Regions from separate parts of the Homo sapiens genome. Here region 2 is linked to region 1. Evidence: fine-mapped expression QTL. A gene starts in region 1. The other region holds a variant in brackets. All regions are shown on one strand. Distances are between the middles of the regions.

Region 1 (5,374 bases):
GCGCCGCCACGTGCGAGAACCAAGCTCTGCTCCTCAAGTGACGGGGGCTCTGCTCTGCCAGGTGACCGCGCACCATTTCTCGTGCCTGGCAAGCTGGTCCCCTTCTGGGTCCGGGACCACCACGTCCCGGCAGGGCAAAAGCAGCAGGCCGTGGGCGCCGGCACCTGTGGGTCCCCAGGCCTGGGGAGGCAAGGACGCCCAGGAAAGCCACAGAAGTGCTCGCAGAAGCAGCCGCTCGCCGCGAGGCACTTCTGAGTTCCCGGCAGCAGGGGGCACCAGAAACCGTCTGAGCCGTGTCGCGCCCACGCGGCCCGGAGGCTGTGTTATCATTTTAGTTATAAAACCGGAGAACCACCACTCCCTCTACGAGCCTCCCGAAATCCCATTAGCCCGGGAACCTGTGGAGGTCCTTACTGGCATCTCTGCTTTTCAGGCTCCCACCCCTCCATTCTCGCTGGTTTTCCTCTCCCCACTTCACCTGAGCGGGTTTCTTGGCAACCTGCTTTCAGACCATCCCTCACCCCTTCCACGCGTCACCGTGACAGATTCGCAGGAGGCAGCGCTCCCGCCGTCAGTGCCCCCGCACCTTCTTGTGCCTGGCAGGCTGGGAGGTTTGTTTGGGCTTTGCCTTCAAGATCCAGGTCTCAGAGAGAGAAAAAGGAGGCGGTGGGGCGGGGAGACGGGTTTGCTATAAACTCGGTTTTTTTTTTTTTTTTTTTGGCGGGGGGAGGTAGAGACAGAAATTGCTGGAAGATCTATTGCTTTTCTTAACTATGCTTCGTGTCCTTGACTGACAGAGGACTTATTCTCCCCTCAACCCCCCATAACTGCGGGGCCCAAGATGAGGGAAGGAAAAAGAATTTGGGACACTTCTCGCAGGCAAACTGGGAAAGCGGTCTGTTTAAAGGGCCAGGTTCCAGGCCCGAGAGCACCCGAATTGCTAGCGGGAAAGGGCTAGGGACACGGCGGACTTCCCAGAGATCGGACACTTGTTACTTGTTGAAAAGGCGCCACCTTCCCTGACAAAGCGAAGGCGCAGCGAAACAGTACGAGTTTGGTCGAGGCCGGCTTTGACGGCTTTGCGGGACTGGGTGCGTGAATGAGGTTGGAAGAAACATCTCTTCCTTGAAATACCTAAGCATATATTCCAAACACTGAGCAAGAGTCGAGCGCGTTCTAACATCTCCGCAGCAGGGGCCGGAAGAGTTGCCTTTGTCCCCGCCTATGAGCAGAAGGGTCGCGAGCTCTGGGATGGGTAAGCCCCCCGGGGGCGCGCACATGGGTCCTGGCGGCGGATTCTACCAAAGCCGAAACTAGCTGGGCCCCAGGAAGCTGGCGGGAACCCGCGAAAGTCCGTTTCCAGCCCGAAGAGGGTTCGTTTTTCTTCGTTGGGGCAGGAAACAAACCACCAGTGCGGAATTAGCCTCGAGGTGGTGTAAAGTAGTGGCAGTGGTGGTGGGGTGTTTTTGGAAGGCGGCACAGAGTACAGGAGAAAAAGGGGTCATTAAAATAATAACCTCAATGGCCTAGTGGAGTCTCAAGAATACGTTCGAGACAGAGATTTGAATCCAGGACTGGCAAGAAAGCCCCTCTCCTAACCTCGACGGGGATGGTTAGTTGGGGTGGAGGGCGTTAGGAACGTGCAGGCAACCGGGTGAGGAATGTAGCTTTGCCAGACCTCGCCCGGAGGAGGTGAGCCCTCCATTTTTAGGTTCTCAGCACCTTTGCAGCAGCCCCTCCCCCGGCCTGCGCTTTTCCTTGGCACAGATCAAAACAAGCTCAATAGTAAGTTGCACTCTTGGCAATGATAGTATCTCTGCACGTCCAGAGAGGACACATTTCGACGGCGGTGGGTTCGAAGATGACCCAAGCCCTGAATCGTTCTGTGACTTGACGGAAGAGCACCTGGCCGAGTCGGGGAAGGAAACTGCCCCTCTTGGGCATTCCGGGTCCAGGCGCATCTGGGGCTCCACAGATCTTTGCCCACGTGGAAAAGGCAACATGCCCCTCCGAAAGGCCGGCCTCTCTCCGGTTCTACTTTTCTCTCTCCTCGCATAGCTTAGGTTCCCTCTAGTCTTTCCACTTTCTACTCTCACCGTTTGCTCTGGGGTCCAGACGCACCCCTCTGACTAGGGCGCCCTTCAGCCGGCCGCACCCACCCGCGACGCAGGCACCACCCGCTCCCTGCTCCCCGGCCCGCTCCCTCACTTACCTCGGATCGGGTCTCCGCAGACCCTAGGTTGGACATTAACTCCAGGTGCCCCAAGTCCCAGCCAGGAGACCCATCCGGGCTGATGGCTGGAGCGCGGAGCCCCGCCCAACAGGTCAGGGGCAAGAGTTCGCAATCCTGGGGTCGCGCGGGGCAGCAAGGGCGCGCTGGAGGCGGCGGCCAAGACTCCCGCCGCCGCCGCCGCCAACAGGGCGAGGGCTGCCGGCAACTCTCCCGCCGGGCCCCCGCACCCCCAGAAGCCGAGGTCCGAGCAGCCGCCGCTGCTTTGGGTGGGGGGCTGACAGGGCTGCGCGCGTCGCGCTCTTGGCTGGGGCTGCGCGGGCCCGGGGCGCTGCGGGCGGCTCAGCGGCAGCTGCCGCGCTCTGCGCCTCCTCTGGGCGCACTGCCTGGGAGCACGAGACTGGTTTGTCTGATGCTGCTGCCGGAGCTGAGGTCTTGCCTGGAGATCCGAACGAGACACCACGTCAACCGGCGCGGGGAGTCCCGTGAAGACATGAGGGCGCCAGGAGCGCAGGCTGGTCTTCTAGAGCCCGGGCTGGGGGTCCGGGGTCCGGGGTGGGGGAGGGGAGGCGCGGGGCCCCGGGAGGGAGGGGTCGGGAGGCGTCGGCTGGGCCTGGCGGTGGGGGAGGAGAGGAGAGCAGCGAGGAGGCCCTGGAGTTCCCGAGGCGGGGGGCCGGGGTGCGAGTGGGCGACGCGAGGCGCCCCTCCCTGGGCTGCAGGGAGAGCGCTGAGAGCGCGGAGACGCCGCGGGGCTAGCGCCTTCTCCTCTCCGGGTGGATCAAAAATCGAGAGGAATGTGCGGCGCTCTGCGCGGGCCAGCCGAAAGGGGCAATCCGAACTTGACCGCGGCGCCCGCGCCGGGCTTTGCCCCCGCGCGCCGCACTGGGAGGGTGGCGCTCTGCCGGTGCAGGGCAGCGCCGGGCTTTCCTCGCGCCTGTCGAAGGCCGGCCTTCCCGCTCGGGTGTCTCGCCCTCTCGCTTCTCCGCAGGGCAGGAGGCAGTGGCGAGAAAAGGAGCTGCCGGCCGGAGTTCTAGCACCGAGAAGGAGAGGTGCGGAGCGGCCGGGTGAGGGAAGCCGAGTATTTGCCAGGGGACGCTGCGAGTGGGGATGAATTTATAGGGCTCTCACTCCGTGACGTGCCCTCCAGTGGCTTTTCTGATTCGCTTTCTGACCTAAACACACATTAGTTTAGTCCCCATGCTAAGGCCAACACGGTCTCCAAATATCTGCTGGCTGAAGTCAGAGGCTTTGCATATCATGTATTACATGGCAGGCAATGAAGAAGGCTTCTGAGGCTGGCCGGCTCCTCAGTCCTAGGCTCCATTTTCATGCTGTTGTAATCTAATACCAGACATGGGGCAGGCACATACATTCAAAATCCCAATTCCAGAGGCGTAAGATCACTTTATCAGGAACGGGTTAGGGGAGGTTGAGCTAAACCTGCTTTTATCCAGATTTTCGAAAATGCAGATGGGAAACTTCAGCAAGCGCCCACTTGGATGCTGAGTTTCCAGCGATCAGGGGCCCGGCCCCCATTCCAGAGCTCTGTGGATGGGAGAGGTGAGACCTTCTGGGCATTCCTTTTGTTGGTTAGTTCACCACCAGAAGCTGCCTGAGCCTTCTTTTGTAGAGGACAGGAGGAGGGCAAGTCCTTACACACCCTGTGCATGGCTATAACCATAAATACATTTCATTCACATGGGGCATGGAATTGGCTGTACCTCTAAAATAATGTACTAAATAGGGCATGTCTTTGCTAAGCAGAAACCTGTTTTCCGGAAGCCATTGGACCTGAATTCAGTGGGACCTCTTTTATTTTATTAGCTGGGGCCAGGGAAAGTGTAAACAGGCTCAGTTTACGTCCATGTACCTCTTATTTTATGACTCATCCGGTTGTTGGGGAGTATGTGTTCTTCAAGTAGCTGATACAGACAATAGGCAGGGGAAATGCGTGTGGCAGTGTGGGGGGAAGATCATGTATTATTAAACTTCTTAAAAGTCAAAGATCAGCTACTTTGCAGGTTTGTCAGTGAAGCGAGTGTGGGAGGAAAATTGTTCTTACTAACGTTGCTGTGATTTAAGATTAAGCGAAGTGAAAATCGAGTCATCAAAACATACCTTAGCTGAAATTAGGATGCTCTCTGGAGTTCTGCAGAAAATGACATTTCCCTCTTTGATAGATTTATGGTAGAAATGTAGTTAGATTCAGAAATTAGAGGGCAGAATAAGCTTAATATATTTATTGCCGTTTAGCATTGTTTTTGGAATTTGAAGACGACCCTCATCAATGTTCTTACTCTGAATGATTTCTTTATTTTTAGAGGGCTTTTTGCTGGGGATGATCAGCCCGTCCAAGCACCTGCAAATATCTAGCACTTGCTGTGTGCCAGGCAAAGTGCTAGGCCCTGGGCATTGTGCTGATTGGGCTTTTTTTTTGGGCGGGGGGCGGGGGTTGCAAGGAACAGATACCACTGAGGTTTACCCTCAGTAATGGGAATTTACTGTGGAAGGAAGGCTGACCGGAATCTCCACCATTCCGCCACGTGTCTCCGAAAAGCCTTCCGGAAAGGCCACCCAGCCAGGCCTCATGAAAACTGGATTGAAGTTCAGGAACTGGAAGGTCATTCAGGATACAGCTCTGTGACTGGGTTATCTCGCTGCCCCCTCAGCAGCAGGCATCTGCCGATCCCCACTAACGGCTTAGCCGCCAAGGTGATTCAGCTCCTCTCTCGCTGTTTTCCCCTGGGTGTCCTTTGGCTTCTGCTCCTGCTACCAACTGCTCAGCTCTCAGTTGATCTCACATTTAAACTCCTTTAGTGAAAGGATCTAGTTTGTCCTGCTAGGGATTCACCAGGGGTGAGAGTTGGACTGAGCCTTTGTATCAGTCTCCTTACAGGTTGCAAAACACCCTGTATATCCGCAGACCTGGGGGCAGGTGCCTATCCTGGGCCAATCATTCATGTCCAGGTTGTTGGCATCACAGAGTACACAGCCTGGCCACCTTTGCTTGAGATACTTCCTAGAGTTCCTCCCCACATTCCCTCCACAGAGGATGGTCCCTCAGAAGGAGGTGGGTTAATGGTAGGCACTTTGGGTTTTGACAGTCCTCTCCCAGCCCTTCAGAAACTACCACTACAGAGAGGG
Region 2 (5,374 bases), 59 kb before region 1:
AGGCTTACAACTCTAAGGGGGTCCATGTGAGAGGGTTGTGATCAATTGAGCAAGCAGCGGGTACACGACTGGGGTCTGCATGCACCGGTAATCAGAACGGAACAGAACAGGACAGGGATTTTCACAATGCTTTTCCATACAATGTCTGGAATCTATAGATAACATAATTGGTTAGGTCAGGGGTCGATCTTTAACCAGGCCTGGGGTGTGGCACCGGGCTGTCTGCCTCTGGATTTCATTTCTGCCTTTTAGTTTTTACTTCTTTCTTTGAAGGCAGAAATCGGGCATAAGACAATATGAGGGGTGGTCTCCTCTCTTATTCCCCTCCTTTGAGAATCTCACTCAATAGTGGGAGTTCTCACTTTCATTCTCACTACCCATGTCTTCTTGCAAGACATATCGATAGTGATTCATATAGTACATGTGTGCTGAAGCATTTTGGTGAACTAAGGTAGTGATGAAGCTTTTTATCATTTGAAGAAGTACAGGTAGCAAACAAGGGAGCAGTAAGCAGGTTTCTATTGCTATTATGACTCCTATTATAAGAGTTTTAAATCTTTTGGCACTGGGAACCATTTTCCAAACATGGTCCTAGGATCAAATCCATGGCACACTTGCACATTTGGCACATAACAAATTTATGTGCCAGTTTTGTCATATTTCCAACTATGTCTTCAACTACTTGCCCTTGATCATCTATGTGTAGACAGCAATTAGTAAGGTTAAATTTTCTACAGACCCCCTCCTTCAGCTGCTAGCAAGTAGTCGAGAGCCAATCTATTTTGATAGATAGCATTTCTCATCTGAGTTTCTTGCCAGGCCAGAATAGTCAAGGCTCTGCCGGTCTTATTAGTGATTATTTCTAAGACAGCTTGTAACCGTATGATTTGGTTGAGCATGTAAATGGGGGTCCAGTATCCCCACAAGCTGTTTTGTGCCCATGTACCAGGCCTATAATATTGTATGATTCTCTCAGGGGACCATTCATCATCTTTCCAATTTCCTATAGCTATGCTTCTCTTTTTGCGGGAAGCCCAGGAGTTCGCCTGTCTTTATGGGCAGTAGGAAGAAAGATGGTTTAATAGTGCCAATAACAAAACTATCTGCCCACTGGTCGGGTAATTTGGCATAAGGTCTATGCCCACATATACAGTATAGTCCAGTGGGGGCTGTCCAGTCCCGGTGGGACTCCAGGTTGGTCTACGCGGTTTGCAACTTTGGGAATTTACTAAATGGATTTTTCTTAGTATGGTTTGAACTCCACTAGGTGGCTGTTTTTGTAGTACTATTATACAGTTTTTGCTCAAGGCAGCTGAGTCTTCCCATAGGAAGGGTGAAGTCCTCCCCCACTCTTGCTATACAGTATTGTCTAACAATTAAGGCTTTTAGGACCTAGAAGTTATCAGGGTGATTCTTTTGAATCGGGAATTTATCAGGAACTGGGTCTGTAGGTATTAATTCTCGGGCTTCCCATGGCCATTGATCTCCCAGTACAGTTCCTCCACATACATAACATGAAGTGACATTGAGAGACTGGGCTACATGCTCAGCTAATTGCAAAAACAAATTTCTTGTTTTTCCTGGAATTTCTAGTACTGGTACATTCAGTTCATCATAGAAGGTTTGAAATACTGGCTCAGGAGAGCGTTTATAAACTTCTCCTCAAACCACAATATTTACTTGAGGATCCAGTCCGGCCCTATCAATTCCTAGGGTTACAAGCTCCCCTTTTTTTCCAGTGAGGATCAAGGGAGTTGGTTATTACTAGTTCTAAGGGATTACACTGACCACTGGTACAGGAAGGGCCACTTTTCCCTTTCTGAAGGTGGACAGGATCCTTTTCATTTTTTTATCCAAGTAGCTAAATGACACAAGACCAGTATCCATATTTATTTCCACACAGTCCTAATTCATGACAAATGTACTTATTTTCTGCCATATAGCCTCTTTCCTAATTAACAGAACCACATCCTATTCCTAACTTATTATTATTAATGACAGCATAGGCATCAAACTTCAAAACGACTTGTTTGGGCACCGCTTTTTATTTTGTTTTGGCTAACACTTTACTCATATAGTTTATGAGCCCCCACCAGTCCTCAGTCCTTAATCTTGTTTCAAAAACTGTGGTCATGGGAGGCTCAGATGGGTCATAACACACATCAGGTTGGTCATGTCCTGGGCTACATACCTTGTATAGAATAGCATTATATAAACAAGTTCTTTTTAGAGTCCCGGTACACTTATAATAACCATAAAGTAATAGGACTGTAGCAACTTTTTGTCCTACCTCAGTGACTTGACGTATACACTGGGAACTGTCCTCAGTCTGAGGAAGGTCAGTTGAAGTCCTTACTGTACAAGTTCAAATTTTATAAAATGAATCCTGTGATGAGTTTTCTCATGCTTTGGCTGAGCGTGGACCAGTCAGCTTCTGGGTGTGACTGGAGCAGGGCTTGTTGTCTCTTTCAGAGTCACTTTGCAGGGGTTGGCAAAGCTGCTCACATCCACATACAGCTCCTAGTCTACTGATGTTCAAGGATGGTCTTGGAGGTTGGCCCCACTAGAATAAACTGAGTCCAATACCTCTACTGAGTCCAATACCTCTACACAGTTACGTTCAACTGGGCTCTCTGATACCAGGAGCAAGGTGG[C/T]GGGGTTTAGGGTGTTGCAGACTTCATTGGTTATGCGGGGATTTTCACATAGCAAGCTTTGGTACTTGGTTAATCTAGCATTTGTTAGCCAATGATGTCCTTTGGTATTCATCAAAGTTACCACAGCATGGGGAGCCTTTATATTCAGGTTTTTCCCAAGGGTTAGTTTATCTGCTTCTTGTGCTAACAGGGCCATTGCTGCCAGGGCCCTTAGACATGGGGGCCAGGCTTTGGAAACCCCATCTAGTTGTTTTGAGAGATAGGCCACTGGCCTTGGCCAGGACCTCACAGTCTGGGTTAAAACTCCAACTGCCATTTTTTTTTTTCTTTCTGACACGTAAAGTGTAAAGGGTTTTGTGAGGTCAGGTGGCCCAAGGGCCGAGGCCGACATGAGGTTTTCTTTTAACTTATGAAAAGCTCATTGCTGTTGGTTGCAATAGATGTAGTTTATCCAATTAACATTTTTATTAACTGTCACACACCAAAATATTGACTTAAATCCTGCAGCTATTTGATTTCAAGCTTTAAATTGATCTGGTATTCCCCATGGGACTCCAACTGCGTCTAAATAAATGTGAGAGTCGAAAGACCCATAAGGGACTTCTCTCTATTTACAATGTCTTATTTTTCCTCTTTCTGGTAGATAAAATGCCAGGGTGAAAGGGATAGCCAATTGGACTAAAGTACAAGTGCCACTCCAGTTATTTGGCAGAGTGCCCAGTAAAGGTCCACCACAATACCACCACACATCCGCGCAGGGATGAACAAGGGCTGACTGATTGATAAGCTCTTGAAAATTCTTAAGCTCATTGCATCCCTTCAGGTCTCCAATGAACACTAAGTTTCCTCCCAGTCGTGAGAGATATGAAGTGAACTTAGTGTTGGGAGACGGAAGCTGGATGGCCCTCGGGGGCTGACCTGCAGGGTGCCGGACTTTGGTATATAGTAGAGAGAGCTTGGCACGACTTATTACTCCAGGCTGTAGAATCCTGGAAAAGAGCTACCATGCAGCCCACGCCTGGTCAATTGGAGGACCACCTTAGTGGAAAGGGGACAGTCTGGGCCTCTGGCCTGCCATGTGCACAAGCATAACAATTGCTTTTGTTTAATGTGCAGATGGAATATTTGATCCATTTTAACCAGGCATTTGCATCTTGGTATCCTGTCTTAATTGCTAAAGTTTGTTTTAAGACTTTAACTTTTATGATCCTCTAGTAAAATGAATGTATGATTTTAGGAAATTACAAAAAATGGTTGGGGCAGTCCATCCTTGCTCTTTAGTGGTATGCAGAACGTTGGACCAACTATGGCATAAAAGCTCTACACTGGGGGGCAAGAATCCTGGTTAACACTGGAGTCTTTATTGAAATCTCCCTGGATTAAATGGTGCTAATTTACTAATGCCCAGTATGAGGAGAGTCAGGAGGGATGGAGGTAATTTTCTGACATAGAGATCTGTCTTTGACTTAGCAAGTCCTCACAGGGTATAACAAGGCAAGCATTAAATGCAATAGTTTGAGGCAAAATTGACTTGGTTATGTTAATAACTAGATGGTCAGCAATAGAGCAAGGAAAGAAGAAAGAGTAATAGAATAGATGAAAGAGTTAAATTTTTCTTAGCTTTAGTTTGGTAGGGTTTTCACCTGGGACTATGGCCCATGACTCTGGAGGGGGTGGCGCTTTGACTCAGGTGTGATGAGTCCATCCTTTTTCCACTGTACGAATGGCAGTCTCAGTGGTTAGCAGCACAAGGTAGGGTCCTTCCTAGGCTGGCTTGAGTTTTTCTTCTTTCCACCCTTTGATAAGAAGGTGATCTTCAGGCTGGTGCTGGTTTACTGGAAATTCTAGGGGTGGTACCTGTGCTAAAAGACTTTTAGTTTTGAGGGAAAGGAAAGTGGAAGATAAACCAAGTATGTAATTTCTAAGAAATTGACTTTTTGTTTTAAATGTGGGGACATCAACAGTGGACTTTATACTCTTTGGTGCCTTCTTACTGAGAAATTTCCTTTAGCACCTATTTTTATTAGTTTTTAGACCAAAGAAAGCCAAACACCATTTTATATTTAATAATGCTTCTTGTATAATTTTTATACCAGATAAGCTAAATTTCACCTTTATATTAGTGTGTTATTAATGTTAAACTTAATTTTAATAAAACCTTGTAGACATATTTATCCAATTTTTAATATTGGACCATAAGATTTTCATAGACTCTTTTTAACCTTTTATAATTTTTGTTAAAGAGTAGGTTAGTGCTTTAAGAAAAACCCGTTGTGTTTTTACTTTAATGTCCAGTTCACAGAAAAACTGGTTGACACCCCTTTAACTTTAGCTAATATGTTTATACACAGAATTTTCTTTACAAATAACATTTTAAAACTTGCTTAAACCTTCAAAACAATATATATATATATATTTAACCTTTTAGTGTAGGTAAAAATTTACAGTCTTATGCCTCCTTATAATCCTTTTACCAAAGGTATATTTTACTTTCCTTATACACCTTGCACATAAACGGTTTTTTTAATAGTTTTACATTCAGGAGGCCTAGTTACTTTTAAATTATACAACATTTCTTGCATAAATTCCTTTTTTATAACTTTTTTTTTCTCTTTCACGGCTTTCACAGACAATTCTTTGACCTGCTTCAACTTTCAGACTTTTTACAGACATTTCTTTATTTAAACAGCCAGTTGATTTATTTCAGGAGAAGAATTTAC

Direction of the effects. Alleles are on the strand shown, and positions count from the first base shown. SD is a standard deviation of normalised expression in the study named.
In carriers of allele C in region 2, the expression in fibroblasts of the gene that starts at base 2,747 in region 1 tends to be higher than with T alone (small effect, 0.24 SD a copy in GTEx).

Evidence for each region. PIP is the estimated chance that this variant, and not a neighbour inherited with it, causes the effect. A credible set is the group of variants that fine-mapping cannot tell apart.
Region 2: its variant is the best candidate, but not a certain one, in a credible set for the expression of GDNF in fibroblasts (GTEx, PIP 0.58).

What each region holds. Positions count from the first base shown.
Region 1 is chr5:37,837,295-37,842,668 of GRCh38, forward strand. GDNF (glial cell derived neurotrophic factor) reads right to left here and starts at 2,747. Exons shown (of 3, transcript NM_000514.4): 1 at 2,213-2,747. It overlaps GDNF-AS1 (GDNF antisense RNA 1), which reads left to right and starts at 2,590. Exons shown (of 4, transcript NR_145476.1): 1 at 2,590-2,744. RefSeq lists enhancers at 144-213, 1,671-2,608.
Region 2 is chr5:37,778,200-37,783,573 of GRCh38, forward strand. No RefSeq gene overlaps it. Among named protein-coding and RNA genes, the nearest start is that of GDNF-AS1, 59 kb to the right of the region's middle. The variant C/T (reference allele first, on the strand shown) is at 2,655.